Linked DNA regions of Homo sapiens. The protein of the gene in region 2 purifies or fractionates together with the protein of the main gene of each other region. This does not show direct contact. Each region holds a gene or a part of one and is shown on either strand. Other genes may lie near its edges.

Region 1 (3,658 bases), on a different chromosome or scaffold from region 2:
GGACACAAGATTAGGGGGTTAGTTTAAAAAAAAAAGAACAAAACAAAAGTATGTATACTCTTGTACATCAAGAAAAGAAAGATTTTATTCCAAGTGCAATAAGAAGGCATCAGAAAGTTCTGGGTAAGACAGTCGCATGTATTTTATTCTGAAAGGGTCACTAGTCCATCTGTATAAGGAACGATTGTATAAAGAACAGTGAGAAGCCACGGAAGACAGTAGAGGCTTGGACTAGAATGTGCTAGAGGTAGAGGTAGTGAAAGGTAGGTAAAGATGACCTGCCTGCTCCATTCTCTCTGCCATTCCTCTGTGCCACCAGCCCCAACACTAAGGGGACTATTCCAGTTATTTAAAAACTTGAGGGGTAGCTATACGAAAACAGCACATAATGCTAGGGCTATTGTGTACAGCCGTGCCTTGTACAAGGGTGGCTGGCCAAGCAAGTAAGTGGGGCTGAAATCTAGCCTGTGTTCTGTCTTACATATTGTGTGCACTTGCCATGGAACCTATCTATGTAAGGGAAGGGAATTCCAATTTTTTTTTTTTTTTTTTGAGACGGAGTCTCCCTTTGTTGCCCAGGCTGGAGTGCAGTGGCGCAATCTTGGCTCACTGAAACCTCCGCCTCCCTGGGTTCAATCGATTCTCCTGCCTCCACCTCCCTAGTAGCTGGGATTACAGGCGCGAGCCACCACACCCGGCTAATTTTTTGTATTTTTATTTTTATTTTTGAGACAGAGTCTCGCTCTGTTGCCAGGCTGGAGTGCAGTGGCGCAATCTCGGCTCACTGCAACCTCCGCCTCCCAGGTTCAAGTGATTCTTCTGCCTCAGCCTCCCAAGTAGCTGGGACTACAGGCACGTGCCACCATGCCTGGCTAGTTTTCTGTATTTTTAGTAGAGACAGGGTTTCACCATATTGGCCAGGATGATCTTGATCTCCTGATCTTCTGATCCACCAGCCTTGGCCTCCCAAAGTGCTGGGATTCAGGCGTGAGCCACCGTGCCCGGCCAATTTTTTGTATTTTTAGTAGAGACGGAGTTTCACCATATTGGCCAGGCTGGTCTCGAATTCCTGGCCTCACGTGATCTGCCCTCCTCGGCCTCCCAAAAGTGCTGGGATTATAGGGATGAGCCACCGTTCCCAGATAGAATTACAATTTTCTAATTCACATACAAGTGACACGTGTTAGCAGGGGCCTTGAACAATGCCCTACGTCATTGACTATGTAAGAGTATTAGGCTCAACAAAGGTGATTAAAATGTTATTAATCATTTAACTGTTCAAGAAATCTCTTTTCTGGATTAGTTTTAAAGAAATAATTGAGACTGAAGTTTTAAAGAAATAATTGAGACTGAATATTGATTTTAAAATCCCTGATGAAACAAAATGGTGTATCATTCATTGCCTTCCATCTCAACTCCATTTTTTTTTTTTTTTTTTTTTTGAGACAGGGTCTCACTCTGTCACCTAGGCTGAAGTGCAGTGGCACGATCTCGGCTCACTGCAACCTCTGCCTCCTGGGTTCAGGCCATTCTCCTGCCTCACTAGTAGCTGGGACTACAGGCATGCACCACCACACCAGGCTAATTTTTTTGTATTTTTAGTAGAAACGGGGTTTCCCCATGTTGTCCAGGCTGGTCTCAAGCTCCTGACCTCAGGTGATCCACCCACCTCAGCCTCTCAAAGTGCTAGGAGTACAGGCGTGAGCCACCACGCTTGGCCTCAACTCTAATTTTATGAGATCCCAAGACTATTTTGTGGCTTTCACTACCTAATCTACTTAATTAATAATTAGAATAGCAAAGATGTATGTATAAATAAAGCATTGAAGTCTTTTCAAAATTTAAGTGACACTTAATTAGCATTTTACAACATTAAAATTTTATCTTCAAGAGAATCAGCATGAATCAGATGAGAAAGGTTTTGCCAGAGGAACCTGTGGAAGGTTTAAAACGAGTCAAAGGAGTTCTATTACGAACGTTAGGATAAAAAGTGGAGACTTGGCTGGGCGCAGTGGCTCACGCCTGTAATCTCAGGCACTTTGGGAGGCCAAGGCAGGTGGGTCACCTGAGGTCAGGAGTTCGAGACCAGCCTGGCCAACATGGTGAGATCCCATCTCTACTAAAAATACAAAAATTAGCTGGGTGTGGTGGTGGATGCCTGTAATCCCAGCTACTTGGGAGGCTGAGGCAAGAGGATCTGGGAGGCGAGCCAAGATTGTGCCATTGCACTCCAGCCTGGGCGACAAGAGCAAAACTCTTTCTCAAAAAAAAAAAAAAAAAAAAAAGGTGGCGACACATTGACTCATGCCTGTAATCGCAGCACTTCAGGAGGCCAAGGTGGGAGGACAGCTTGAGGCTAGAAGTTCAAGACCAGCTTGGGCAACACAGCAAGATCCTGTGTCAAAAACAAACAAACAAAAAAGCCAGGCATGGTGGTGTGTGCTTGTTGTCCTAGCTACTGGGGAGGCTGAGGCAGAAGGACTGCTTGAGCCCAGAAGTTTGAGGCTGCAGTGAGCTATGATGAAGCCACTGTCCTCCAGCCTGGGTGATAGAGCAAGACCTTGTCTCTAAAACAAAAAAAGAAAAAATAAAGTGGAGACATTTAAGATAATTACTCCATCAGTAATAGTGGCAAATAGGGGCTCAAATTTAGTTCGCTGTCCTGCCTGTATTCTTTTTCCTCCTTCTGGTCAGAGAAGACAGGCTAAAAAAAAAATGCAATAGCTAAAATTAAAGAAAAAGTACTAAATAGATGAGGGTATGAAGAATGGCAAAAGGAAAGATACCAAGAACACTTACTGTTTTCTTTGTTCAAAATAACACATCAAATATCCAAGAAGCCAGTATTTCCAGCTCTCAGACAGCTCCTCAGGTCTACAGAGGATAAACTAAGCTACTCACTGTTTCTGTCATGCACCAGGGTCAGGCTGCAATGTCTTTCCCTTATATGACTATTATCTCAGTATCCTTCCTTTCTCCCATCTCAGCTCATCCAAATTCTACCAGTATGTTCAAGATTCAGTCAAATGCTATACATTTCAAGCATACGTTCCAGTTCCCTTTCAGGTGAAAACAATCTTTTCTTTTCCTGGACTCAGAAAATACTTAACCTGTGCCTTTCTTATGGCACTTGATACTTCTGTAGCTGGTTCTCAACACAGGCTATATATTATATTAAAGCACTGCAAGTGATTAAAAAAACAAAAATAAACCCCAGCCCTACCTCAGACCAATTACACCATAATCTCTGGGAGTGGAACCCTGTAGTGTTTTTAAAAAGTCTGCCAGGTCATTAAAATGGACAGCCCAGAGGTGAGAGCCCCTACCTTAGCTATGCCTTACTGATACTACTCGAGTTATCTTTATATCTGTAAATGGAGTGACATACATGTATAATTAAATTTTTAGGTCCAGAATTTTTTAAAAATTAGATTTTTGTATCCTCTGTGAACATAGTAAATGTGAACTAATAGTTTATCCAAGAATCAAATATTCCCATTCCCTAGGTAGTATTTTCAGTTTAGCTTAAAACATGGGATTTAGCTATATCTACAATTATGTAAAATCTGTAGATGCTCCCATTTAGAGACAGAATATTTTTAAAAAAGAACATGGTGAGTGTTTTGGTTTTTGGCTATAAACAATGCACACAGCTTAC
Region 2 (3,658 bases):
TTTACCACGCTTGCAAATTCTCAAAGGAAGTTTAACTTATTTTATAAAGCAAAAAGCTGAGACTTTCTATGGCCAAGAGGCACACTTACCACAATCAAGAATAAACTGAGCCCTATTATGTGAAACATTTTTAAATCAATCTTTCTCTCTCTCACACACACACATACTACACACACACACATACTACACACACACACACACACACACACACACTGCTACACACTTCCCTATACTTCCACACTTCTTGGAAAAATTGATGGGTTACCTTCATTGCTGGGGTTTCCCAGAACTTTCCTGACCTCTGCATTGGTGGGATTTGTGCCCAGAGCTCGAAGGACATCACCGACCTGGCTTAAGGTGATCTTGGAATCACCTGTTCTGTCAAACAGGAGAAATGCCTCCTTGAATTCTGCAAAAAGCAAGAAGCATTAGAGTGCTCTTTTCTTCCTCTAACCTATTAATTAAACCTAACCTTATCAAAAATTCAGTTCAAACTCTTCAGTTTTACAACTTCTGCCAACTATGCAAGTTGTTATCCTGGATTCTCTTTTTGTATCTCCAAATATCATTGGCAAAAACTTAGCATTTCTTTTCAGGGTTATTTTAAAACAGCATTTCCAACTTTAAGTTGCCTGTTATTGTTAATCAGATATGGAAATTGGAGCTCCTAGTCATATTCATATTTCCTTTACCTGCCTGGAAACCTGGATTGGGTTAAAAAATTCTAAGGCCTTGAGAAACTTTAATAATCTCTCATATAATTAACAAGATTAACAAAATTTCAGAAAGAACAAATTTTCAATCAGGCTCATGGTATGTGAGGTTAACTCAAACTTTTCAAATTATGTAGAAAAACCTCCTCTTGGGTACAAATTTCCTAGGTTATCCCTTTAACCAGCTTTCTCCAGGAATAACTTTATTTTTCAGGAAAAATTTAGAAAGGTGAGACAAATCTATACATTCTATAGTTTATTAACTAATGTGTGACTCTATTAGGCTCCTCGTATAATCAGTTCAGAAGGAGAAATATTTGTTTTGGTATGTTGCTGTGATAATCTCTTTATACTTTACCCTTTTATCAAATAATACATATGACATATGTTGCTATATCAGCTTTAGAATTTCGCTATGCCTTGTAATTACAATTTTATGGAGAAAATTGTAGATTCACATGCAGTTCTAAGAAATGATACAGAAAGATCTCTTGTATGCTCTGCCCGGTATCTTCCAGTAGTAACATTTTGCAAAATTATATTATCATAACCAAGATATTCACATTGGTAGACGCCATCAATTTTAGTCACATTTTCCCAGTTTGCTCGATTCATTGTGTGTACGTGTATGTATTAAGTATACACAGCCATTCCCATTCTTTTATGAATACATATTTTAAAGTGTTCTCTATTCTAATTATAATCATTGTATTGATGACTTTCTCTAAATTTAATCATTCTCTTTTGATAGAACTGGTTTGACTTTCAAAATTATAGTGACAAAAAATTTAGAAATGTATATCAAAGACAGAAAGGGTGTCTTTGGTGGATCTGGGGGCCAGTACAACCATTTTAATTAGAACTTATAAACTAGATTACATTTTCTGGGAAACCCAAAAGTACTGCTGATGACTTCCAGTTAATATCAACAATACTCAAAAAATCATTTGTGAATAAATTGGTAGAAGTGAAAGCATTTTTTTAGGCTATCAGTGGTTTCAGATCAAAAGGTGCTGTCTAGATAGATTACTCAGCAAAGTATTCCATCTTGCTATTCCTCCCTCCCCTAATCTAACATCGCACTGACATTATATTCACAATTCACTACAGATCATGTTACCATTATTTGTTAAAACTTCCCCCTCGAATTCTATGCAATTTGACTACAGATCAATTCCCTAAGCTAAAAAACTTGCTGCAGGCACTGAGAAGTCATTAGTCAAATATTATTTTTCATCTTTCTAAGGGACATGTGAAACTGAACTATTCTTGTTACTGGCTTCAGGCTTTCATGGACAGACTGCTCAGCAGGCTCACTATTACCCTGGTCAGATGCCGAAGTAGAAATAGGATTTTATGGGCTGTAATAGAATCACTGTGACATTAACACTTTTGGTGATTTAAAGGCAGAGACCAGAAAGACACTATTTTATTACCCCAGATTTTTAACCCAAAGTTTAGTTATTCTCTTGAAGAATTAATACCAGGGCTGGTTATACTATTTTCCAGGGGCTGGTTGCCTGTTTCTTTTTAATAAAATTTGATTCGGATACAGCCATTCCCATTCTTTTATGAATTGTCTATGGCTTTCTTCACACCTCAGTGACAGAGTGGAGTTGTTTTTACAGAGTCTATACTGGCAGCAAAGCCTAACGTATTTACTATTTGGCCTTTTAAGAAAAAGTTCGCTAACTTCTGGTCTATAACAGTATTGTTCTAGAACTTTTTGGTAATAATGGAATTGTTGTCATTCTGGGCTGCCCAAAAAGGTGGCTATTAACTGTTGCTCTTGAACACTAAAATGTGACTAGTGCAAGTGAGGAAAATGGATTTTAAATTTTATTTTTAATTAATTAAAGTTTAAATAGCCACATGTGGCTAGTGTCTACTGGAGAGCACAAGACTTAGACCTTTAGAATGTTGTCATTTTCCAGTTTTTGCACCCTTTCCTTCAATCCTGTGATAGATTCCAATAGAGCAGCCATGAACAAAATTCTTTAACCACTAAACAAGGAAACAAACTAAAGAATGCTTTCATTTAAGAAACTATAGTTTTTCCACATAATTTAAAATGCTTACATTTGTTTTCCTGCCACAAAGAAAACAGTATACTACACCCATGTTTGCTGAACTTCTGTGTCTAAAATCTATTTCACAGATGGAATAAAAGGTTTAATGCTCAACGTTAAATCATTGAGTCCTTGCAAGGGTTTTTAAGTCTTCCATTGCTTGATCCTACAATAGTTTTGTCACAACAATTGTAAATTAGCTATTTGAGAGGACTGGGATGCAGTAGGTGACAATGTAGCAGCATCACTAGTTAAAATGCATTAAAAATCAAACAAATTATGGTAGAATCACCAACTGTTTTCAATGAGAAAAAAGTCCTTCATAGTATAATTTCAAATAATCTTGAGTTATGGGTCACCATATCATCTAATCTGTCTACATGAGGCCATCAACCATGATACAGATGCATGTGAGTCTGTACTACAGTAAATATCCCTTTTTCTCAATTTATGTTCAAATATGAACTATTTCAGATGCAGAAATAGACTTGAAGAATGTGGAATCCTTTAGGTAGAGAACTGAGTATTTGAATAGGTTCTTATTAATCACCTATAATTATAATTATTTATATTTTCATATCTAATATATGTAATATAGACATACTACTTATGACCAATATTCTAATTTATACAATATTTTGAAGCTAATTTTTTCTCCTCCTTCCATCTATAGGTTTATTTGTGTCTCAGTTCACTTAGATATGTGACTCTTTCACTCCATAAAACATTCCTCCCTGCACTTGCTAATGAAAACATCAAGCTCCTGTGGAGTATGGGATCTGTTGGATCCAAAGACCCAAAGGTGAAAAGGTTGACTTTTTAGGGAAACTATTCAGATTCTCTTGAATCTTAAGAGTTTGGAGTCTCCTAGCTAGT

The links.
Region 1: the proteins of MYL1 (region 2) and NUP107 fractionate together in Homo sapiens (co-fractionation; one large-scale study listed by BioGRID). This does not show direct contact.

What each region holds. Positions count from the first base shown.
Region 1 is NC_000012.12:68,735,345-68,739,002, reverse strand, and holds part of NUP107 (nuclear pore complex protein Nup107), read right to left. Parts: intron 1-3,658. UniProt on the Homo sapiens protein: Plays a role in the nuclear pore complex (NPC) assembly and/or maintenance. Required for the assembly of peripheral proteins into the NPC. May anchor NUP62 to the NPC. Involved in nephrogenesis.
Region 2 is NC_000002.12:210,298,155-210,301,812, forward strand, and holds part of MYL1 (myosin light chain 1/3, skeletal muscle isoform), read right to left. Parts: intron 410-3,658; coding exon 266-409; intron 1-265. UniProt on the Homo sapiens protein: Non-regulatory myosin light chain required for proper formation and/or maintenance of myofibers, and thus appropriate muscle function.